Linked DNA regions of Homo sapiens. The protein of the gene in region 4 interacts with the protein of the main gene of each other region in a pairwise test. Each region holds a gene or a part of one and is shown on either strand. Other genes may lie near its edges. The genes, in order: PRPSAP2, TIPIN, CCDC198 and TEX11.

Region 1 (7,048 bases), on a different chromosome or scaffold from region 4:
TTGTCAGTTTCATATTCCTCTAATCAGAATCACTCAGCACCCCTTTCATTTTCTCTCCGTGTCTCATTTTGCATTGTTCCATACCTGACATAAGCTTGTGTTAACTCGGGTTCTCAGTCTTGTCCATGTTGCAGAGTCTGGACGTCATGGTCTTCTTTGTGAAATACCATGAAATAACATTTAGTGTTGAGGGCCAGATGTGGTGGCTCATGCCTGTAATCCTAGCACTTTGGGAGGTCGAGGTGGGCATATCAGTTGAGGCCAGGAGTTTGAGACCAGCCAGGCCAACACGGTGAAACCCTGTCTTTACTAAAAATACAAAAAATTAGCTGGGCATGGTCATGAGCGCCTGTAGTCCCAGCTACTCAGGTGGCTGAGGCACGAGAATTGCTTGAACGCAGGAGGCAGAGGTTGTAGTGAGCTGAGATCACGCCACTGGATTCCAGCCTGGGTAAAAGAACAAGGCTCCATCTCGAAGTAAAAAAAAAAAAGGCTGGGCGAGGTGGCTTACACCTATAATCCCAGAGCTTTGGGAGGCCGAGGCGGGCAGATCAGGAGTTCAAGACCAGCCTGGCCAACATGGTGAAACCCTGTCTCTACTGAAAATACAAAAATTAGCTGGGCGTGGTGATATGCGCTTCTAATTCCAGCTACTTGGGAGGCTGAGGCATGAGAATCGCTTGAACCCAGGAGACAGAGGGTGCAGTGAGCCAAGATGGCGCCACTATACTCCAGGCTGGGTGATAGAGTGAGACTCTGTCTCAAAAAAAAAAAAAAAAAGCCTGTAATCCCACCACTTTGGGAGGCCCCAGGCGTGCAGATCACCTGAGGTCGGGAGTTCAAGACCAGCCTGACCAACATGGAGAAACGCTCTCTCTGCTAAAAATGCAAAATTAGCCGGGCATGGTGGCGCATGCCTGTGATCTCAGCTACTCGGGAGGCTGAGACAGGAGAATTGCTTGATCCTGGGAGGCGGAGGTTGCGGTGAGCCGAGATCATGCCATTGCACTCCAGCCTGGGCAACAAGAGCAGAACTCCGTCTCAAAAACAAACAAACAAAAAAATGATTTAGTGTTGTCAGATACATCTTATACTTCATTTTACTACAGATTAGTGCTAGCACTAAAAATAAAAGAGAAATTTAAAATTAAGAAAATTCCATCCATTAACTGAAGTTTTCCTGTATTTCAAACAAGACTGTCCTTATCTGAGTTCAGTAATGGAAAGCCTTGTTCCTCCACTCTTATCCTTCCCATAGAATACTTTTCTGAAAATCTTTTTTTTTCCTAAGTTAATTAACAGGGTGAAAGTCTCTTTTAACTCATCAGATGTCAGACTTGTTGTATAGTGACAGAGAACCTACTCACCTGAATGTTCTGTGTTTCCATTCACTCCTTCTTTCATTAACAAATACTTATTTTGAATGTCTACAATATGTGAATTACAGTTAGTTACACGTATGCAGGATGCCTCCATGATTAAAACAGAGAAAGTCCTTGTCCTTGTGGAGTTTATATTCCAGTGGAGGAAGACATAAAGTGAGCATAATAAAGACATAGATTATCTAGAAGGTGATGAATGGTTTGGAAAAAAATAAGACAGCATGGTGAGATGATAGTGGTGAGAGGGCAGAGAGAGGCAGACAGGGTAGGCCTCATTGTGGAGGTGACATTTGAACAGAGACTAGAGAAGGTGAGGGAGAGTCAGGTGACTAGGTGGGGAGAAAAGCATTGCAGGCAGTGGGAACGCCTAGAGCAAGCCCCTTAGCGGTGTGAGCTGCTGTGGGAGGACTGAACAGGGTCAGGTGTGGCCAGGCAGGAGGGGAGGGGCAGATCCTCAAGTTTGGACTGGAGTTGTAAATTTGAGAGTTGCCACCATCTATGAAGCTGTGAAATTAGATGAGAAGCCCAAAGGACGAGAGGGAACAGAAAGAGAGGACACATGAGCAAGTCCTGGGACGTGAGGCTGGGGAGAAGAGGAACCAGCAAAAGAAACCAAGGGTGGAAGGAGGACACCAGAGAGGGGCATTCTGGAAGCCAAGTGACCGTGGACATGGCCGCATGGAGGCCACTGATGACCTTTATGAAAACAAAGCTTCACTGGACTATTTGGGAGAGACTGAGAGTAGATAAATTGGAGATAGTGTAAGATGTACAGCAAAGGGGAGCAGAGGGGAGAGTGGTTATGAGTCGTGTTAATGGAAGTAACAGAATGTTTGTGGCCGATGGGTTATCAGTGGTGGAGGCAGGAGAGGAGAGAGAATTCCTTACATAGGTGTGCCATTTGGAGGGATTAATTTTAGGGCCACTGGCATGGAAATTTCCTCTGACTGATGACTGAGGGCAGGCCGACTCCTGGGGCACAGATGCACATAGTGGGAGCTTGTGGACACGCTCCTCTGAGAGTACTTAAGTAGGGTGGTCAGTTGAGAGCAGATGATGGGGGATCTTATGGAGGCCTGAGAAAAGAGGAATTTATTGGTTGGTTTTTTTCTGCCTTGCACCTTAGGTTGTATAAAGGCATGAGTAACACACTGCTGACACTTTTTGGAACAGGGAATACTGTGTTGTAGATCCCTTGATGAGATTTGCTGTGTCTTTGTTACAGGGACGTGAACACCACCATCATGGAGCTCCTGATCATGGTGTATGCATGTAAGACCTCTTGTGCCAAGAGCATCATTGGCGTGATACCCTACTTTCCTTACAGCAAGCAGTGCAAGATGAGAAAAAGAGGCTCCATTGTCTCTAAATTGCTGGCTTCCATGATGTGCAAAGCTGGTAAGAATGGCAGATGTTTCACAATTAATTGGGGGCCTGGGAGTTTTATTTATTTATTCTCTCTTTTTTAAGACAGGGTCTTGCCCTGTCACCTAGGCTGGAGTGTAGTGGCGTGATCATAGCTCACTGCAACTTGAACTCCTACAGTCAAGCAGTCCACCAGAGCCTCCCAAGTAGCTAGGACTATAGGCACATACCACCCTGCCTGCTAATTTTTAAATTTTTTGTAGATACTGGGTCTTACTATGTTGTTCAGGCTGGTTTTGAACTGCTGGCCTCAAGGGATGTTTCTGCTCCAGCCTCCCAGGGTGCTGAGATTATAGTCATGAACCACCATACCCTGCTGGAGTTTTATTTTTACCTTAGAAATATCAAAGTAATGGCTGGGCACAGCAGCTCACGCCTGCAATCCCAATGCTTTGGGAAGCTATGTGGGATGATCTTTGAACTCCTGGGCTCAAGTGATCCCCCTGAGTAGTTGGAACTATGGACATATACCACCGTGCCTGCCTAGATAGGCATATATTGGAAAAGATACATATTATTCTGTGTCAGGCATTTTCAGGTAACAACCTAAGTATTTTTCCTGTGTTTCTAAATAACCTTCATAGTTGTTATTGGGTATTTGTGTCAATATATTTGTGTTTGTGTGTGTGCGCGCTTGTATAAGTGTATATGATTTTATTTATTTATTTATTTATTTTGAGATGGAGTTTCGCTCCTGTTGCCCAGGCTGGAGTGCAATGGCATGATCTTCGCTCACCACAACCTCCACCTCCCCGGTTCAAGCGATTCTCCTGCCTCAGCCTCCCAAGTAGCTGGGATTACAGGCATGCGCCACCACGCCCGGCTAATTTTGTATTTTTAGTAGAGACAGGGTTTCTCCATGTTGGTCAGGCTGGTCTCAAACTCCCGACCCCGCCTCAGACTCCCAAAGTGCTGGGATTACAGGCGTAAGCCACTGCACCCGGCCTATGATTTTTTTATTTTAATTTTTATTCTGTTTATTTATTTTTTGAGACGGAGTCTTGCTCCGTTGCCCAGGCTGGAGTGCAGTGGTGGCACCTCGGCTCACTGCAACCACTGTCTCCTGGGTTCAAGCGATTTTTGTACCTTAGCTTCTCTAGTAGCTGGGACTACAGGTGCCTGCCACCACACTCAGCTAATTTTTGTATTTTTAGTAGAGATGGGGTTTTGCCATGTTGGCCAGGCTGGTCTCGAACTCCTGACCTCAAGTGATCCACCTGCTTTGGGCTCCTAAAATTCTGGGATTACAGACACAAGCCACCATAGCCAGCCTGAATGTATATGATTTTAGAAGGTATGTATCACGGAGCATTTGCACAGAGTGAATAGAATAAAAGTCCCCATATCACTGCATTTTAAGACAGGTACTTACTGTAGAATAAACCTTTTTTTTTGTTTGTTTTTTGAGACGGAGTCTTGCTCTGTTGCCCAGTCTGGAGTGCAATGACGTGATCTTGGCTCACTGCAACCTCCACCACCCGGGTTCAAGCAATTCTCCTGCCTCAGCCCCCAGAGTAGCTGGGATTGCAGGCACACACCAACATGCCCAACTAATTATTATTATTTTTATTTTTTATTTTTGAGTCTCACCTGTCATCCAGGCTGGAGTGCAGTAGCGTGATCTCGGCTCACCGCAACCTCCACTTCCTGGGTTTAAGCGATTCACCTGCCTCAGCCTCCTGAGTAGCTGGGATTACTGGCGCCCACCACCACGCCTGGCTAATTTTTGTATTTTTAGTAGAGACGAGGTTTCACCATGTTGGCCATGCTTGTCTCGAACTCTTGACCTCAGGTGATCCACCTTCCTCAGCCTCCCAAAGTGTTGGGATTACAGGCGTGAGCCACCACGCCCAGCCCAGAATAAACTTTCTAAGATAGTTTTTCAGTAAAGGCAAACGTAAAACAAACATTTAAAAACTAGGCAGGGTGTGGTGGCTCACGCCTGTAATCCCAGCACTTTGGGAGAACCAGGGGGCGATCACCTGAGGTTGGGAGTTCAGAGCAGCCTAACCAACATGGAAAAACCCCGTCTCTACTAACAATACAAAATTAGCCGGGTGTGGTGACACATGCCTGTAATCCCAGCTACTCGGGAGTCTGAGGCAGGAGAATTGCTTGAACCCGGGAGGTGGAGGTTGTGGTGAACCAAGATCATGCCGTTGCACTCCAGCCTGGGCAACAAGAGCAAAACTCCGTCTCAAAAAAATAAAAATAAAATTAAAAACTCAACCCGAAGCAACCTCAGGAGCCTACCCCATTGTAAACACTATGACAGGCAGCTGGTGAGGAGAGCAGGCTTGCCTGCTGAATCTTCAGGAAAGGGCCCATCTTCTCTACCAGCCTTGCTTGATGGGCCTCCAGACTTACTTTCCTGTTCTTTTGGGCAAGTAATGCTTTAAACAATTTTTCATACTGAATTTTCCTTACACTTTTCTGGTGATCGTTACAAAGGTGGTGAAGGTTTTCTGTTTTCTCCAATTTCCAGGCTGGTGCAGTTTGTCTTGATATCTTTTTTTTTCCCCATGGGTCTCAGTCCTCTTGCCCGGGCTGGGGTGCAGTGGTGTGATCACTGCTCACTACCAGGAGGTAGCCTTGACCTCCTGGGTTCAAGTGATCCTCCGACCTTAGCTTCCAGAGTAACTAGGGACTACAGGCATGCATCACCATACCTGACTAGTTTTTTGTATTTTTAGTAGAAATGGAGTCTCACCATGTGGCCCAGGCCATTTTCAAACACCTGGGCTCAAGTGATACTCCTGCCTCGGCCTCCCAAAGTGCTGGGTTTACAGGCATGAGCCACCACACCCGGCTGACTTGTTATCTTAAGACTGGACTTTGCCATGCCTGTTAAACTTCAAGAAGATTTGATCTGCTCTAATATAATTTTTAAAGACTCTTCTGTATTACTGTTATCTTTGCTATATTATGACTATTTTTTATTTATTTATTTTTTCGAGATGGAGTCTCGCTCTGTCGCCCAGGCTGGAGTGCAGTGGCATGATCTCAGCTCACTGCAACCTCCACCTCCTGGATTCAAGTGATTCTCCTGCCTCAGCCTCCCTAGAAGCTGAGATTACAGGCACATGCCACCACACTTGGCTAATTTTTGTATTTTTAGTAGAGACGGGGTTTCACCGTGTTGGCCAGGCTGGTCTTGAACTCCTGACCTCAGGTGATCCGCCTGCCTCAGCCTTCCAAAGTGCTGGGATTACAGCTGTGAGCCATCGCACCTGACCAAGACTTTAAATTGATGTGAAAATCAGGCATCTCACAGTACTAAAAAAAAAAAAATTTTTTTTGAAAAATACAAGTGCTGAGTTTTTTTGATGGTAGAACAATTTTGTCTTTTTTTTTTTGAGACCAAGTCTCCCCCTTTCACCCAGGTCGGAGTGAAGTGGTGCGATCTCGGCTCACTGCAACCTCCGCCCCCCCAGGTTCAAGCGAATTCTCCTGCCTCAGCCTCCCGAGTAGCTGGGATTATGGGCACGTGCCACCATGCCTGGCTAATTTTTGTGTTTTTAGTAGAGATGAGGTTTCGCCATGTTGGCCAGGCTGGTCTCCAACTCCTGACCTCAGGTGATCCACCCGCCTCGGCCTCCCAAAGTGCTGGGATTACAGGCGTGAGCCACCGTGTCCGGCCTTATTTTTTATTTTTTTGAGGCAAGATCTCACTCTGTCACCCAGACTGGAATGCAGTGGCTCAATCTCAGCTCACTTGCAGCCTTGACCTTCTGCACTGAAGCGATTCTCCCACCTTAGCCTCCTGAGTATCTGGGACTACAGATGTGCGCCACCATGCCTGGCTAATTTTTGTTTTGTAGAGGCGGGGTTTTGCCATGTTCCCCAGGCTGATCTCAAACTCCTGAGCTCAAGCAGTTTGTCAGCCTTGGCCTTCAAAGTGCTAGGATTACAGGCGTGAGCCACTGTGCCCGGCCATGAGAGCAATTTTTTTTTTTTTTTTGAGACGGAGTCTTGCTCTGTCACCCAGGCTGGAGTGCAGTGGCATGATCTTGGCTCACTGCAACCTCTGCCTCCCGGATTCAAGCTATTCTTCTGCCTCAGCCTCCCAAGTAGCTGGGACTACAGGCACACGCCACCACGCCCAGCTAATTTTTGTATTTTTAGTAAAGATGGGGTTTCATCATATTGGTCAGGCTGGCGTTGAACTCCTGACCTTGTGATCCACCCACCTCGCCCTCCCAAAGTGCTGGGATTACAGGCGTGAGCCACAGTGCCCGGCT
Region 2 (3,995 bases), on a different chromosome or scaffold from region 4:
TCTTGACTCACTGCAGCCTTGAACTTCTAGTCTCAAGCAATCCTCCAGCATTGGGCTTCCAAAGTGCTGGGATTGCAGGTATGAGCCAGTGTACCTGGCCTAAATTTGCTGTTTTTAACACACATTGTGGGTTTGGAAACTATATAACCAAATTTGTTAAAACTATATTTAGAAAGAATTGCAAGTTGGTTTTGAATGAAGTAAGCAGGATTGCGTATATCTTTCTTAATTTCCCATTCAGTTTTTCCTTTCAAAATGGAAAAATAAGAATTATAGGCCCAGCACAGTGTCTCTTGCCTGTAATCCCAGCACTTTGGGAGGCTGAGGTGGGCAGATCACTTGAGCCTGGGAGTTCAAGACCAGCCTGGGCAACATAGTGAGTCCCCGTCTCTACAAAAAAAAAAAGAATTATAATAACTAGATACCATGTTGTAAACGAAGTTTCACCCAATATATTAACATTTTTAAGTGAAAATTATTTTGGCTACTTTTTTTTTCAGTTAAGATGAATTTACTTTTTCTTTTTGCTTTTTTTTTTTTTTTTTTTTTTTTTTGAGATGGAGTCTTGCTCTGTAGCTCAGGCTGGAGTGCAGTGGCGTGATCTTGGCTCACTGCAACCTCTGCCTCCCGGGTTCAAGCAGTTCCCCTGCTTCAGCCTCCTCAAGTAGCTAGGACTACAAGTGCGTGCCCCCATGCCTGGCTAATTTTTGTATTTTTAGTAGAGAAGGGATTTCACTGTGTTGGCCAGGGTGGTCTTGAACTCCTGACCTAGTGATCTGCCTGCCTCAGCCTCCCAAAGTCCTGGGATTACAGGTGTGAGCCACCATGCCCAGCTGAATTTACTTTTTCCTTTTTTTTTTTTTTTTTTTTTTGAGACGGAGTCTTGCTCTGTCACCCAGGCTGGAGTGCAATGGCGTGATCTCGGCTCACTGCAAGCCCCGCCTCCCGTGTCCATGCCATTCTCGTGCCTCAGCCTCCCGAGTAGCTGGGACTACAGGTGCCTGCCACCACGCCTGGCTAATTTTTTGTATTTTTAGTAGAGACAGGGTTTCACCGTATCAGCCAGGATGGTCTCGATCCCCTAACCTCGTGATCCACCCACCTCGGTCTCCTAAAGTGCTGGGATTACAGGTGTGAGCCACCGCACCTGGCCAATTTACTTTTTCTTTATAAATGGATGTTTTATTAGTACCATGTGAAACATTACATGAAGATAGCATTATTCTTGATGGCAGTGGCTTCTTTGCTGTCAATATCAAGTATACCTGGCAGTTGGTATTTAAAGCTCACCTCTGTTTATCATATACAACTTAAAATTTGTCCAAATGGAAATAAGTACTTTAAAGTTTCTTATGGATCACTCTGACATAAAACCTAAACGCACTTGGTTTTTATTAGACCTCTTTCTAGTAGTTTTCAGTTTTGTTTTTTTAGATGGGGCCTCACTGTATTGCCCAGGCTGGAGTGCAGTTGCTGATCTCGGCCCACTGCAACCTCCGCCTCCTAGGTTCAAGCGATTCTCCTGTCCCAGCCTCCCGAGTAGCTGGGATTACAGGCGTGCTCCACCATGTCCGGCTAATTTTTGTATTTTTTGTAGAGGCAGGGTTTCACCATATTGGCCAGACTGGTTTCAAACTCCTGACCTTGAGTGATCTGCCTGCCTCAGCCTCCCAAAGTGCTGAGATTACAGGCATGATCCACTGTGCCTGGCCAATAGTAGTTTGATTTTGAATAAGAACAGTTACATTTGACTATGATCCAAGAGTGTGAGTTGAATAACATTCAAAACCATTTTGCTTTTTTTTTGTTTTTTTTTGGTTATAGGATCTCACTTTGTCACCCAGGCTGGAGTGCAGTGGCACGATCATGGTTCGCCACCATAGCCAGCTAATTATTTTTTTTTTTATTTTATTTTTTTTGATGTTTTGTTGACATGGGGTCTCACTATGTGGCCCAGGCTGGTCCTGAACTCCTGAGCTCCAATGATCCTCCCACATTGTTGGGATCGGGCCTGGCCTCTCTTGCATTTAAAATGGATCTTAATTGTATAAAAATGGGCTTATTGGCTAGGCGTGGTAGCTCACGCCTGTAATCCCAGGACTTTGGGAGCCTGAGGCGGGTGGATCACCTGAGGTCAGGAGTTCGAGACCAGCCTGGCCAACATAGTGAAACCCTGTCTCTTCTAAAAATACCAAAATTAGCCGGGTGTAGTGGCGGGTACCTGTAATCCCAGCTACTCGGGAGGCTGAGGCAGGAGAATCACTTGAACCCGGTGGAGGTTGCAGTGAGCCCAGATCGTGCGATTGCACTCCAGCCAAAGTGATGGAGCGAGACTCCATCTCAAAAAAAAAAAAAAAGATATATTTAGAAGAAAGTGATCATAATTAACATTAAGTGATCTTAGACTTCATTTTACTAAACTGAGCTTTTGAAGAGGTTTGTACTCATGCGGTAAGATTGGATCAGGTACTTATAATGAATAATAATGGTATGATTTCTTTCAGATATGTTAATGAATACACCCAGGGCACACACGGTTGAAGAGGTTAATACTGATGAGGATCAAAAGGAGGAGTCAAATGGATTAAACGAAGACATTCTGGACAATCCATGTAATGATGCTATTGCCAATACTTTAAATGAAGAGGAAACACTGCTGGACCAGTCTTTTAAAAATGTGCAACAGCAACTTGATGCTACATCCAGAAATATTACTGAAGCTAGATAAGTTTCCATTAAGAGAAAATGTATCTGTTAAGTCATCGTCCTGCAAGCTTGGCGTTACTATGTATTTTTTCTTCTTGGAGTGAAAATCCTTAGATAGTAAAACTGTTATAGATTATTGTTTAAAATCTGATAATCTGGTATTTATTTATAATTATGCTTGTCACTTTAGTTAAATCTATTTGTTCTCTTTAGTGTTTGTTTTTATATAGGTATTTCTTCATAAAATGATTAGGAGGTAATAAGCAGTTTCTGCTGCTGGTCTGTCATTGAATGCCTTGTTTTCACTAAGTTGGGAGGTTTTGTTTCTGTTTTTTACTGCTCCTTGCAAAGCAGGGCTAATCCATGGACAGTGTGCCCAGAGTAGTCTAGTTGAAGTTTTTTGTTTTGTTTTGTTTTGTTTTTTTTGACACAGAGTCTCACTCTGTTGGCCAGGCTGGAGTGCAGTGGCACAGTCTTGGCTCACTGCAACCTCTGCCTCCTGGGCTCAAGCAATTCTCCTGCCTTAGCCTCCCGAGTAGCTGGGACTACAGGCGTGTGCCACCACGCTTGGCTAATTTTTGTACTTTTAGTAGAGATGAGGTTTCACCATGTTGGCCAGGCTGGTCTCAAACTCCTAACCTCAGGTAATCCGCCCCCCTCGGCCTCCCAAAGTGCTGGGATTACAGGTGTGAGCCACCGCGCCCAGCCTGGGTGAAGTTTTGAGATGTACATATATACTGAATATTAATGTCAATTTTTTAAAAGAAGTAAAAATTATCTTAAAAACTATCTACAGGCTTTATGGGAGGTTTTCATTGCTATATAGTTCTGCAGTTTACACTTTTGGTAAATACAAGATTTTTACATGTTTTCTAAGGAGTTACTTTAATAGTTAAAAGGTCACATGAAAGGCCGATACATTGCCTGGCCCTCATAGGTGCTAGGGTAGTTCAAAGAATGCTTTTTGGGAACTTACTGACTAGTTGGAGTGAAACTTGCAAAGTATCGTGGGGAACATAGCATCTCGGGAGGATTTACAGGAAAGACTTTGCTTTTGGTGGAGGAGATTCCAAGTATTGGGAAGCACATGTACAATAATGATACAGAAATAAGATTAAGGGGATAAGGCAGATTTTAGGAATGCTGATTTTGAGGTTAGATGTGTTAGGGCCAAATCGTGAGAACACCTGATTGGAGTTCTTCCTGCCAGGTAGAGGGGGTAGTTACAAATAAGAAAGGTTAGTGTTAGGAAAGGCTCTCCCACCCCACCCCCTCACCCCTACCCACAG
Region 3 (7,465 bases), on a different chromosome or scaffold from region 4:
ATCTAAAAAGTCAAATTCCCAGAAGTAGAGAGTAAAATGGTGGTTGCCAGAGGCTGGGGATGGGGAGGTGGAGTTGGGGGATTAGGCAATAGGGGGTGGGCAGGGAGAGATGAGACATCGGTCAATGGGTACAAAGTTACAGTTAGGAGGAATAGGTTCTGTGTTTTATTGCACAGCAAGGTGACTACAGTTAATAATGTACATTTCAAAATATCTAAAAGAGAAGATGTTAAGTGTTCTCACTAAGAAAACATGATAAATATTTGAGGTGATAGATATAATTACCCTGAGTTAATCATTTTCAAGGTATACATGTATCGGAACATCACACTGTACCCCATAAACATTCACAGGTATTTGTCTACTTAAAATAAAATAAAAATTTAAAAGATAAAAAGGATTATGATAACCAAAGGTTGATGTTCCTTTTAGAGATACAATATACAAATATTATTTTATCTAGGTTAAATCCATTGGCAATACATTTTAAGAAACCCACGCACTGGCTGTCTTCAGAGTAGTATAGTGTGCGAAGGCATGATTCTAGCATTTCATTCAATGATGTACTTGCAGATTGCATTCAAAGGGTAAAGAGACAAATCGTATACAACTGATCTCATGGAAGAGGTTATACAAGACGCTTCAGTTAACATTTTTTCCATTTGTTTTGCTTGAGCACTTCCAAACCCAGTAGGTCTGATTACACTGTCACCTTTACATCAATATATAAATAAATCGGGAGGAAAATAATCACTGGAAGGAAAATTAAGGTTCGGGTCATACATCAACTCTGCTTAGTTAGCATGCAAACCTATAATTCACACTGCTGCTGAAAAGCCTCCAGTGATTGCTTATCCATTACAGATCCATTGCAGAAAAAGGCTGTAACTTTATTAGAAGCCTAATTTAAGAACCTATAAACATTTAGAATTTAAGCCCCACTGACTGAATGAAGTCCAACTGTATGGAATATTTATACACATGTTGATTTAAATCCCTTCTGAAGCCTTTCCAAGAAAACCGTATGCTGAAGGATCAAAAGGCAATTTAACCAACCCGACTCCAGACTACCACCATCCAGTCCTAAGGAATATCACCTTAGCCTTTGTCACTTGCTTAATATAAAACATCCAAACGAAATTACCCACAGCTCATTAAAAAAAGAAACTCATTTATCCGATATTAGGTTGTTTAAACTTTAAGATTTACTATTCCTCAAGTGTTTGCATGGTTTTCTCTAGGTAGCTTCTCAGAACATAGTGCTACTGCAGTCATGAATTCCTGTTAGCTGGTAAGCTACTTGCAGAAAATAGATGTCTTTGTTCATCCCAGGCATTTTCCTTATCTCCAGGCAGTCATCTTACCAAGGTATGGGGAAAGAGATTGTAGATGACTCTGGGAAATCCATCAAAACTAAGGCAAGAGCTATCAAATCACAATCTGATGGAAAAAGGTAGGTAATGTTTCCACACAGGAAGGAAAGCTTCTCTCCTTATGCTGGCTCTAAATAGATATTACAGTGTAAATCAAGCTATAGGAGGTTGTAAGGAAACTTAGAGAGCACCTACTCTCTTAAGTATGATAGCAGACTCACACTTAAAGACCTGGATCTTGCCTCCCATCATTCAAGTGTAAAACTTTCTCTTATTAGAGAGCAGAAAAATCCACATATCTCATAATGAATGTGTATTGAGTTTCTATAGAACTTATATTCACTAAACAATATTCCTTAATAGTTTTGTCCCCAAGGCTAGTTAGGAGTGAACCCAGAACAAAAGCTAGGATTTTTAACTTCAAAATGAATGTATATTTTGAAATAGACATTATACTTTGCCTTCTCCTTATTGCTTGGTTCACTCTGTGTCTTGAAGGAAGGCATTTTCTACAGAAGGCAAGAAAGGTCCAAGCACCAGGAGCTTGTACACGGCTATTTCTTGGGAACTTCAAGGTCACATTGCCTGTGGAGATGCTCCAGGCTGAGGGCTTTGATTCTTCCTGGCAGAAATAGTACACTTGGCTGTGAGTTCCTGCTTCTCTCCATCTCCTCTGGGGCCTCGCCACTTTCTCTTAGTACATTTTTCTCTGGATGCTACCTTCAGCTTTAGAAAAGTTTAGCTAATCTTAAGAGTTTTATAAATTAATATTCTCATTCCATATTCATGAATTCTGACTGTTACAAATAACAGCATGTTTTATCATTTTTACACACAATAACGTATAGTCATAGTCATTCTTGAACTAGGGAGTGGTCATTATAAAGTATCACAAAGTGTTTGGGAAGTAGTCAAGGTTTTAGTTGGGTGAGAGCTTTTTAATGTTTTACAACTCTGGTAATAAGAAATTACATCTTATATCTAACTCTATCAGTGAAATTAAACTCTTTTTCTCTTTTAATAAAATTAAAATGTTTCACTATCAAATTTTAATAAAATCCTTTCAGTGTATGAATATTTTCTAATGATAATCCTTAGACATGGTGGTTTTCCCAGTTAAATTGGCCAGATGAATTTACGCTTCCCTCGTTGGTCTTTTCTATACCTAGGGGCAAACTCCTTTAGACAGGAATATGTCTATTTTAATTTCTGACCAACTGGCAATAAAGACTATCCTATGTACATGTAGATATGTAGCAATACTTCCTCAGAGGAGGAGGATACTGGCTAATGATTACTGTGAGCTTACTACATGCCAGGTATTAGTCTAAGAGCTATAAATGGAATCAGGTTCATTTCCCACAAAGTATTGTTATTAACCCCATTTCACAGATCAGGAAAGTCACAAAGCTTGATAGTCACTAGTAATGAAAAGAGAAAGAAGCACAGAAATGCATCTTTATTTCTTTAATTATTCCTTCAACAACTAACCAATTTCCTCAACAAAGGCTCATGTTCTCCACAAATATTGTCTGAAAATTAAATAATAATAAAACAAAACATAAGAGCTGAATCCCTCTTACTGGTCCAGATCCATGAAGTCCACAGTTTTCAGTACAATGTCTAGTTCATTTGTTAGTTCGCAATACATTCCCCTGCCCTTAGAAATACTTAAACTGATTGTACTAAAAAATAAATCTTACTAGACCTTACTCAAGTATTATTATCCTTGTAATTAAGCTAGTCTGTTTACCAGAGGCTGTTGTGTTTGCAGATACTGTTAATATATTAGTCTTTACTTATAAACCTCTCTGCTGCAGAGAAAATGATGTGGAAAATGCAAAGAGAGTAAGGAAAAAACTAAATTCAGGCATCTTTTTAGATAAACGTGATTGTCTACCAAGACTTTCCAAACATCACCTTAGTCCCTTAGGAAATGGATTCTGCAAAGATGAAAAATAAATTTTCTTTTAATTTCTTTATGGAGATGTGATGAAAACACAAGTAATCTGTGCTCATGAACAATTAGAGCTTGAAAGTTAGTCCCACTTCTAAGTATAAAGAATAAAATAAAAATCACCCATAATCCCACCATTCAAAAATCACTACTCAATATTTCGGCACATTTCCTTCCAGTCTTTTTTTCTACTTTAAAAATCATAATAGACCAGGCACTGTGGCTCATGCGTGTAATCCCAGCCCTTTGGGAGGCCAAGACAGGTGGATCTCTTGAGGTCAGGAGTTCGAGACCAGCCTGGCCAACATGGTGAAACCCCTTCTGTACTAAAAAATACAAAAATTAGACAGGTGTGGTGGTAGTAGGTGCCTGTAATCCCAGCTACTTGGGTGGCTGACTCAGGAGAATCACTTGAACTGGTGAGGCGGAGGTTGTGGTGAGCCAAGATCGCTGGGCTTGGGTGACTCCAGCTTGGGTGACAGAGTGAGACTCTGTCTCAAAAATAAATAAATTAATTTAATTTAGTTTAAAAACATAGTAAATAGGTTATCTTCAAAAACTCAAGGTTTACTTAGACCATTTATTCAAGAATTTTTTCCCCTTATCCCCAGGAAAAAAATTTCTATTATCCTCCTGTCCTGCAATGTATTCACCCCCTTCAAAGGCAACTCAAGTCATCGACAGAAAAATCAAATGACGCTTTAGCCGCTCCGCTGCTTTCTTTCCTATTTGGGGGATAAATTCTTTAATTAAATTAAAGATTAACAAAGCCTTGGCAATCAGCATGCATCCTCTTAATTGCAAAGATGGCTTAGCTATTCTCAGCAGTTAGTTTTTTTACAAAGGTACTTGCAATGAAAGGGTCAAGTTTAAGACTTCTCTAAACCTCTGCTCTACATCTCTCTCTGTTAATAACCTTCCTGGTGTTCGATATTTGTTTAATGATCAACAGTGGCTTCTATTCCTATCACTGAGTATTTCAGAAAGTAGCATAACCAAGTCAATGTTTAACTGGATTCTTTGGGTCTGAAACGGCAAAGTTGAAGGGAAGTCTCCATGGAAACCAGCCTCCCAGGAAGTGGCCAAAAGGGTTAGTGTGCAGTGAAACAGAGCTAGAAGGATGCCATGAAGGAAATGACTGCTTTGTAAAGCGAGGGTAAACTTCTGAAATGCTTTGATTAAAATAAGCTATATTAAAGACCCCAAAACCACTTCCCTCGCAGCTTTCCTCTGAATGTCTTTCACATGAAATGGGCCTGAGTCACTCTAAGACTCACCTTAGGGTGATCAAAGTAGCACCTTTGCAAAACAAAGAGGTAGAGACTCCCTCGGCTGGCCGTGTGGACTTTGCATTCAATCAGAATTTGGAAGAAAAGACTTCATATTCACTGGCAAGACTGCAGGACCAGAATAAAGCCTTGGAAGGGCAGCTGCCACCTTTACAAGAAAACTGGTATGGAAGATATTCTACAGGTAAACATAAAACCCAGCATGAGATGTGTGTATCTGGACCAAGGAGCATTATTAATAGGTTTATCTGACTGTCTCCATGATCTCAGAAAGTTTCTAAATTCCTGAAATGTAAAGGAATTTAGGCTATCTTTGAAAACTCAAATCTTTCAATGAGGATTGAACATCAGTTGAAAGTATTCTGGGTTCATTAGAATGGGAGTATAAACTGTACAAAGGACTTTTCACTATTCCATATGAGAAGGATAAATCATTTTGTTTCAGCTCAGTTTGTAATGCTTTCAATGTTTATACCTAGTTTTGCCAGACCATTAAAATTATATAGATACTAGTGATAAATGATAGCAATCGCGTTTCAGTTAGATTCTAAATTTAAATCATTCTCTCCAGTATAGTTTAATGCACCAGACTTTGTGGTTTTGAAAGCAACACTTTAAGAGTGAGTTAATTCTAACATGAATTTTGAAACCACCCTAAACAGTATTGATTTATTGCAGTACAGAGGAGTGGATGAGTCACCCTTTTCCCAACCCCACATTCTTCATGGTCATCTGCAGAACTAACAGAATTCTTTCCCATTATGATTGGAAGCTCTGAGCCTGAAGTGGCCATAAATCCTGGGATATTTTATAAGCCATGTAAAATGTTTTATGATGACCACAATGATAATTAAACAGACATTCTCACTTAGAAAAATATATGTTTATTATATACATATATATATGTATATTGTTTTCCCTTTTCTTCACCTTCTGGATCAATAACACAAATAAGTTTCCCTTATTGGATGCCTTGTTCAGAAAGCCTCACATTCTCTTTTGGTACCTAGCAAATCTTGCCTGGAATGATTTTTCATGGCTATTGTCTGCAGAATTGATAACGTTTGGTTGTTTCTATATGGCCTGTTTTTATGTTCTTTATGTTCTTCAAGTTCTTAAGCACATGGATGGGAATTTTCCCCTTAGGAATTTTTTTATGATAGATAGAGGGATAGGTGATAGACATGATTTAAAAAATGGAGCGTGAATGTGTACTAAGAGTATGCAATGCTCCTATTGAGGAATTCCCTTTTTATCCAAACCCCCATTGAGAGTTTTAAGATTTTGGTGACAGAGAGAGACTCTGTCTCAATTAAAAGAAAAAAAAGATTTAGGTAACTGAATAAATGGTGAGCTTATGTCTGAAGTGACAAAATCACATTTAAAAATAAATAACAAGATCATGAGAATCCTCATGATCTCCCATATTCTCACCCCAGCTCCATCAAATACCAAATCGAATGACCTTGGGCAAGTTACTTCATCAATTTTTTTCACTTGTAATCAGGGGTAAAAATAAATGCCTGACACAGCCTATGCCAGTTGAGGAAAATCTAATTAAATAATGGAGTAATGTCACTAAAATAAAAAAAATAAGGATTAGTAAGCCTTCTGAAAAAATAGCTGAAAATACTTACATTGTTAAATCCAGTATGTTTGTTGTTTCCATCCTGCTCAATATGCTGGCATCTTTTCAAAAGAAAATAAGGACATAGTTTCCATCCCACTAAAAGTTAGAGAGAACAAAGTCCTTGAAGTGGTTATTCACATGTCTTAAGGAGAGAGATGCATAATTACCCAGGGATTTTTCCATTTAAAATGCAAAGTGGGACTGTAAAATAGTCTATGAAACAATCTAGAAGTCAGAATGTGTCCAGATTGTTAAAAGGGAAGGACAAGAACTTCATTCATGCAGCGCTGGTCATGGTAGCACTCCCAAGAGCTCAGGATAATCAAGCTGGAAAATAAAATCCATAATGGATCTGTTGAGCCTCTCTGTTTCCTAATAGAGGCTTAACTCTGTATCCCCAGCTTGTTTCATCAGGAAAGAATATTGATATGCTGTATTACAGTGGCAACCTGTGGAAATTTTTTTCACTAAAGGGGCTATTGAATTGTGTTCACACGTACTCCATTTCTTTCTCATCTCTGTATAATCACCTATCTATCTATCATCTATTTCATCTAAGAAGATTGTTTTCATTTTTTAAAGTTATATATTTTTCTGATGTCTTATATTTCAGGGAGGAGATTTTATGGAATTAAAATAAGTCAATAAATTTCTATTTTCCAGGCCAAATTCTGTTTGAAAAATATTTGCAGTCAACATATTGGTAATTTTGTAACTCTCCCCCTAAGTATGAACCTGAGTAGGAAGTTAGGAGAGCAGATATTAAATCCTGGGTCCAGACTAAAATAGTGTCATGTGCACTAATGTAGGTTCCCTGCTTTCTGTGTTTCATCTCCACATTCAACCCACAGGTTAGACATATATAACTGAAAAGGTACAAAATTGTGTTGACAAAGTCTAGTAACTAATGATTGCCTGATTTAATAGTAAATTATATTTAATGTTTTATTCCTGTTTCTTCCCCAATCCTTCAAGCATCCAGAGACATGTATTTTGACATCCCACTGGAACACAGAGAAACAAGTATTATTAAAAGGCATCCACCCCAAAGACTTCAAGTAAGATGAATTTAAAAGGCTTCATAAGGAATTTCTTGGATAAAATGGTAACATCCCTTTTTAAACTATAATCATCAAAGAGGGATATTGATAAGGACCAAGCTATTAATGAGAATGTTCTTAAAGAAAAATGTCATCAATCGCAAATACTCTATTAC
Region 4 (7,048 bases):
AAGAAGATGTAATACCAACTCTATACAAACTCATCCTGAAAGGAGGGCCCAATTCCCAGTTCATCTTATGAGACTATTATCCTGATACCAGTAGTAGACAAAGACAATATAAGAAACTGCAGACCAAGATTCCTCATGAAAATAGATGCAAAACATAAACGCAGAAAAGCAAAGATAGTTGCTACCTTGGTTGGATGGTATTGACTGGAAAGGAGCACAAAGGAACCTTCTGTATTGTTGGAAGTGTTTGTTATCACAATCTAGGTAGTTATTACACGGGTTTAAACACATGTAAAAACTCATCAAGCTGTTTAAGGTTAGAGCACTTCTTTCAGTTTGTTGTATATATGTCATACCTCAAAACATTTTTCAATGTTCAATCTACCAAGAAGGATGAATGAAAAGTGTCTCACATAGTTTAGTGTATGACACCTGACATGAAATTCTTTCTATGCTGATGCCCAAGAAATTCTGTCGACTAATGAAACAGTTTGGAAACTCTCCTCTATTCTGCTTAAAATAAAGTCACTGTTGGTTTATACAGCACTGTATCTTCTGGTTAACTCGGCCATTAGAGTGAGCACCAGCCCAGTTGAAAGTTCACAAGAAGCAAGTAAACACTGGATTTGATTTAGAATCAATAATAGCAGCAGGGTTTTCTCAGGCTGTTTAGAAGCATCGTGGCAATTGTTTGAGAAAATATAGGTAGTTCTAGTGAATGCGCTACAGAATGTTGGAAGTAGCGGTTAGCTTAGAGATTTTAAAATGTTAGAATCAAATAAAAAACAAAAATAAAATTTAGAATCTGTCTACAGCAGTGAAGATGACCTTCAAATTGTAAGTAAAATTAATATTTCTTAGAAGGAAAACCTCTCCAGTTAGTGAAATTACAACCAAAGAGAATAATATAATATAATCACAAAGAATGTTGCATTTTTGCCTCTTTCTTAGGGACCTTCTCAAATGATTCATGTGAGAAATTGCTTCTGCTGTACGAGTTTGAAGTTAGAGCCAAATTGAATGATCCATTACTGGAAAGCTTCCTGGAATCAGTGTGGGAGTTGCCTCATTTAGAAACTAAAACTTTTGAAACAATTGCAAGTAAGAGCTATATTTATGCTTTTGTAAGGCTGGTGCCCATTTAGATCGTATGACTTTTTTTCTTCTCTTTACTCTTCTTTCTTACCTCCAGGTAGGAAATAATTTTTTCTCATAGCACTTTGTTTCTCCTTCTCTAATGCCATTCTTAGACTATTTTGTATTATGATCATTTGTGCATTTATCTTCTTCACTCTATGAGATTATAATCTCTTTAGGGTCATAAACAATAATTACTTAATTTGTACTTACAAACCCTAGCGAAGTTCATTGCTCCTAATAGGTGCTCAAATTTTTTCTGTGTGGAATTTAATTATGTAACTACACAACAGGGGGAGCTCAAACTTTAGAAAGTTTTTCTGGGCTAGCTAGAAATAACTGAGTGCTTCAACAATCAAAAGTGATGCAATCTTAGCTGTTTGTTGAAATGTACAGAGAAATACTGGTAATATTTTTTAACACAATTGCCACTCTCAAATTTCAGGCCAAACTTTACGTGGGTTTGGGGGCATAGAGCCTTTTTGGGAGTACACTGCAGGAAACAGCCTAATTATCTTCCCTTTTTATCTCTCACCCTCTTCAGGAGCATGTGTGTGGTTAATAAAAATATTAGGTAGCTCCAAGTGCACAAGAGTCACATTTGCCTTTCCTTGGTCTTGCCAAGACAGAATTCCTAGAGCCATGGAGCAGATGATATATACTTTATGGACATGTGACAGCAACCACTGCTCCTTGTATAATGGAACTCCAATTCTAAAAATCTGTTAAATGCATCTGGAAGTCTTAGGGTTAGTTACCTCTGATACTCCCTTGTCAAGTGTTTCCTATTTTTAGTATCAGATAAAAATAGGACATTTTAGTACAAACCTGTTTCAATTAGTGCCCTTTTACTGATCTGCTTTCTGTTTCCTTCTTAGTGTGCCCTTCCTTGACTGTCATTCATAAGATTATTGCTTCACCTGTATGACTGTGTGCAAGGTCATACAAACAGTAGGTTTTCTGTTGATGTTTGCTGAAAAAAGGATGTTACCTGGTAATCCCACCATGCTACTCTGCCCAGAAAGTAGAAGCTATTTCCAAAAGCGACTGTAGATTTATCATTTATAAAATTCATTGTTGTTTATTTTTGTTCATCTGTTTCAGCCCAGTTTCATTAGAGAAAGCAAGTGGTAGCCTGGGATGAAAACTGTGATGGGTGACATTATCATGTTCACAACCTTTTTCCTTTTCTTACTCTAGTAATAGCAATGGAAAAGCCTGCACACTATCCTTTGATTGCTCTCAAGGCCTTGAAAAAGGCTTTATTGCTCTACAAAAAGGAAGAACCAATTGATATATCACAATACAGGTTAGTAAATACAATCCAGCCTTTTTGCTAGCCAAAAGAACTATAGTCAATGCCTCAAAAGTAACCAATCGTTCTTAATTGACTCAACTTTAAAGATGATATGGGGATGATCTGGGGGCATTCTTGTGAACAGCTCCATACTGAGAGTTGTATTACAGACCAATAATTATTTAGCAAAGTCAAGGAGCTTGGTTTTCCCAAAGGAGAAAAAAAAGGGGAAAAGTTGCTTCTTTGTGTGAATCTGTGTATATAATAAAACTGCTAAGTACCTTTCTTTCTTTGTTTCATCACTAAATAATATTCCAAATGTACAGAAAAGCACAGGGGTTAATATAACAAACACCAACGTATCCACCACCCAGATTTATTTGTTTTATTTTTAGAGATGGGGTCTCGTGATGTTGCCCAGGCTGGATTCAAACTCCTGGGCTCAAATGATTCTCCACCTCAGCTTCATGAGTAGCTGGGATTACAGGCACGCAGCACCCAGATTTAACAAATGTTAACATCTTGCTATGTTTGCCTCATTATTTTTCTAAGCACTTTAAGCACCGATAAGTGCTGTATAAAATATTATCTATTGGAGACTTTTTTGTTTTCTGTGTCCAGACATGGGGAAAAATAGATGTTGTGTGACTTTTTTTGTCTGGAAAACATCATTACAGTCTTCCTGTGTTAAGGCACGAAAGACAGTTCTTGTGGAATCATTCCACTTTAAACCCCAGTTCCCTTGCCCATTTGAGGAAGTACCGAGATGCTTTAAAATGCCTGTAAATTGAACCAGCTCATAAAATATAATAGACAGCCACAACTCCTTCGTGCAGGAAACTAAAAAAAGAATGAAAGACAACCATAGGCATGAAAAAAGAAAGGATTGGTCAACCTGTTTTACAGCTTCAAAAATCTGTCTTCTGAGGTTGGAGGCCAGATAAAACCGAGGGAAGAACAGAAGTGTTTTGAAGCTGTTAGTCTGGGATGAGATCCAGGTTTTACTTATCTTAGCCATGAAGCCAATGATTTCTTTCCTTATGGGATGAGTTTTCTCTTTTTGATTTTCAGCAAATGTATGCACAACTTGGTTAACCTCTCAGTGCCAGATGGGGCGTCGAATGTAGAGCTCTGTCCCCTGGAAGAAGTTTGGGGCTATTTTGAAGATGCTCTGAGCCACATTAGCCGCACTGTAAGTCAAATAGTGATATTAAACTTTCAGTTAATTTTAAAGAACTGAACTGTCTTGTGTACTATAAATTATATACAATAATGCTTTCTGATATGAGTTTTAGGATAAATTCATATTACAATTTTGTAGTTACACACTACAGAATTTTCCTGGGTTTCTGAAATATAAATAGTTGAAAGTAGACATTTTCTAACACAAGTGTATTATGGATTAGGTCCAAGTAGCAGTACCACCAGGCATTTTGAATTATTTTATATTTTCAAATCATGGTGGGATGATTACTTTCTCTGTGATGATATGAACCTTTTGAAAAAAGTTATTGCTATTCCCATCCTTTCTCAGAAGCATCCTTTCTCAGAAGAGTAGAAGGAACATTGAAGACCTGTATTCTAGTCCCTCCTCTGCTGATTTCTTTTTCTTTTCTGTGCAGGTTTATTCAGTTGTTTTAAAATTAGGTTTCTTGAGGTATAATTCACATATCATAAAATTCACCCATGGCTTGTGCACAATTCAGTAAATTTATAGAGTTGTGCAACTATCACTACAATCCAGTGTTTTTTAGTTTTAAAAATGTTTTATTTTTAATTTTTGTGGGTACATAGCGGTGTACATGTACCCATACTTATGGGGTACATGAGATTTTTTGGTACAGGCATATAATGCATAATAATCATATCAGGATAAATGGGGTATCCATCACCTCAAGCATTTATCCTTTGTGTTACAAGCAATTCAATTATACTTTTAGTTTTTTAAAATGTACAATTAAATTATTGTTGATTATAATCACCCTGTTGTGCTATTAAGTACAGATCTTATTCATTCTATTTTTTGTACCTATTAACCATTTCCACATTTCCCCCACCCCTCCTCTGGTAACCATCACTCTACTCTTTCTCTCCCCAGCAGTTCAATTATTTTAATTTTTAGCTTTCACAAATAAGTGAGAACATGTGAAGTTTGTTTTTTGTGTGTGTGCTGGGCTTATTTCACTCAACATACTGACCTCCAGTTCCATCCATGTTGTTGCAAGTGACTGGATCTTATTTTTTTTATGGCTGAATAGTACTCCATTGTGTATAGGTACCACATTTTCTTTATCCATTCATCTGTTGATGGACACTTAGGTTGCTTGCAAATCTTAGCTATTGTAAACAGTGCTGCAACAAACATAGGAGTGCAGATACCTCTTTGATATACTGATTTCCTTTCTTTTGGGTATATATCCAGTAGTGGGATTGCTGGATCATACGGTAACTCAATTTTTCGTATTTTGAGGAACCTCCGAACTGTTCTCCATAGTGGTTGTACTAATTTACTTTCCCACCAACAGTGTGCAAGGGTTCCCTTTTCTCCACATCCTCACCAGCACTTCCTATTATTGCCTGTCATTTGGATATAAGCCATTTTAACTGGGGTGAGATGATATCTCACTGTAGTTTTGATTTGCAGTTCTCTGATGATCAGTGATAGTAAGTACCTTTTCATATGCCTGTTTGCCATTTGTTTGTCTTCTTTTGAGAAATGTCTATTCAGATATTTTCCTTATTTTAAAACTCGATTATTAGATTTTTTTTCCTATAGAGTTGTTTGAGCTCTGTATATATTCTGGTTATTAATCCCTTATCAGAGGGGTAGTATGTAAATATTTTCTCTCATTCTGCAGGTTGTCTCTTCACTTTGTTGATTGTTTCCTTTGCTGTGCAGAAGCTTTTTAGCTTGATGTGATCCCATTTGTCCATTTTTGATTTGGTTGCCCATACTTGTAGGATATTGCTCAAGGAATCTTTGCCTACTCCAATATCCTGGAGAGCTTTCCCAATATTTTCTTGTAGTAGTTTCATAGTTTGAGGTGTTCGATTTAAGTCTTTAATCCATTTTGATTTGATCTTTGTATAAGGCAAGACATAGGGATCTCAACTTTCCTCCTTCTGCATATGGATATCCAGTTTTCCCAGCACCATTTATTGAAGAGACTCTTCTTTCCCCAAAGTATGTTCTTGGCACCTTTGTCAAAAATGAGTTCACTGTAGATGTATGGATTTATTTCTGGGTTTGCTATTCTGTTCCACTATGTTGAGCTGCCTGGGGCTGGAGGAGGGGTGATACAAGCACCCTTGTGGCCACTGCCACTGGGACTGTGCTGGTCAGACCTGAAGCCAGCACAGCACTGGGTCTCACCCAAGGCCCACTGTAACCACTACCTGGCTACCACCTATGTTTGCTCAATGCCTTAGGGCTCTACAGTCAGCAGGTGATGAAGCCAGCCAGGCTGTCCTTCCCTTCAGGGCAGCAACTTCCCCCTGGCCCCAGAGATGACATGCAGGAGCCAGGGCCTGGAGTCAGAAACCCTAGAAATCTACCTAGTGCTCTATTCTACTGCAGCTTAGCTGGTATCCAAACCACAAGACAAAGTCCTTCCCACTCTTTCCTCTTTCCACACGCAGAAGAGTCTCTCCCCGTGGCCACCACCATCAGGTGGTGTGGGGAGTTCTGCTGGGCTACTGCCAGTGTTCACTTAAGGCCCAAGGGCTCTGCAATCAGCTTGTGGTGAATGCTGCCAGGCCTGGGACTCATACTTCAGAGAAGTGGGCTCCTCTCTGGCCCAGGACAGGTACAGAAATGCCATCCAAGAGCCAAGGCCTGGAACCGGGGACCCTAGGAGCCCACTTGGTGCTCTAACCCACTGTGGCTGAGTTGATATCTAAGCTGCAATACAAAATCCTCTTTACTCTTCCCTCTGCTTTTCTCAAGCAGAAGGAGTCTCTCCTCATAGCCACCACAGCTGGGAATGTACTGGGTCACAACTGAAGCCAGCATGTCTCAGAGTCTCACCTAAGGCCCACAGTATGTACTACCTGGCTACTGCTGCTGATCACTGAGGGCCAAAGTGCTATTTAGTCAGCAGGTGATGAATCCTGCCGAGACTGGGTCCTTCCCTTCAAGGCAGTGGGTACCTTTTAGCCCGAGGTGTGTCTCAAAATGTTATCTGGGAACTAGGTCCTGGAATGGGACCTTCATGACTATGCCAAGTGCCCTGTCCTACTGTGGCTGAGCTGGTATCCAAGATGCAAGACAAAGTCCCCCTTAAGCTTCCCTCTCCTCTCCTCTAGTGGAAGGAAGGGGTCTGTTTTGGAGCTGCAAACTGCACTGCCTGGGGTTGAGGGAGGGGTCGTGCAATCACTCCCTTGGCTGCCCTGGCTGGTGTCTCACTAGGTCGCATGTCCCCCAGATGCACTGGCTCCAAGCCCAGCACAGCACAAAGATTTGCCCAGGAGTTGCAGTCCTTGTGGCCTAGACTGCCTCTCAAATTTATTTAGAACCCCAGAGCACTTTAGCTCTCAGTGGCAAGGCTTGTTGGAACTCAAGTTCCAACTACTGGGATGGACAATTGCTCTCTAGCTAGGGCTGGTCTAAATACT

Evidence for each region.
Region 1: the proteins of TEX11 (region 4) and PRPSAP2 interact in binary tests that used the Homo sapiens proteins (3 or more experiments, as listed by UniProt).
Region 2: the proteins of TEX11 (region 4) and TIPIN interact in binary tests that used the Homo sapiens proteins (3 or more experiments, as listed by UniProt).
Region 3: the proteins of TEX11 (region 4) and CCDC198 interact in binary tests that used the Homo sapiens proteins (3 or more experiments, as listed by UniProt).

The regions. Positions count from the first base shown.
Region 1 is NC_000017.11:18,875,091-18,882,138, forward strand, and holds part of PRPSAP2 (phosphoribosyl pyrophosphate synthase-associated protein 2), read left to right. Parts: intron 1-2,607; coding exon 2,608-2,780; intron 2,781-7,048. UniProt on the Homo sapiens protein: Seems to play a negative regulatory role in 5-phosphoribose 1-diphosphate synthesis.
Region 2 is NC_000015.10:66,335,691-66,339,685, reverse strand, and holds the end of TIPIN (TIMELESS-interacting protein), read left to right. Parts: intron 1-2,504; coding exon 2,505-2,728; 3' UTR 2,729-3,495; downstream 3,496-3,995.
Region 3 is NC_000014.9:57,490,831-57,498,295, reverse strand, and holds the start of CCDC198 (factor associated with metabolism and energy), read left to right. Parts: upstream 1-4,438; 5' UTR 4,439-4,580; coding exon 4,581-4,803; intron 4,804-6,256; exon of another isoform or gene 6,257-7,224; coding exon 7,225-7,307; exon of another isoform or gene 7,308-7,312; coding exon of another isoform or gene 7,313-7,354; intron 7,355-7,465. UniProt on the Homo sapiens protein: May be involved in tuning the metabolism, energy expenditure, and excretion processes.
Region 4 is NC_000023.11:70,548,704-70,555,751, reverse strand, and holds part of TEX11 (testis-expressed protein 11), read left to right. Parts: intron 1-951; coding exon 952-1,101; intron 1,102-2,337; coding exon 2,338-2,446; intron 2,447-3,505; coding exon 3,506-3,626; intron 3,627-7,048. UniProt on the Homo sapiens protein: Regulator of crossing-over during meiosis. Involved in initiation and/or maintenance of chromosome synapsis and formation of crossovers.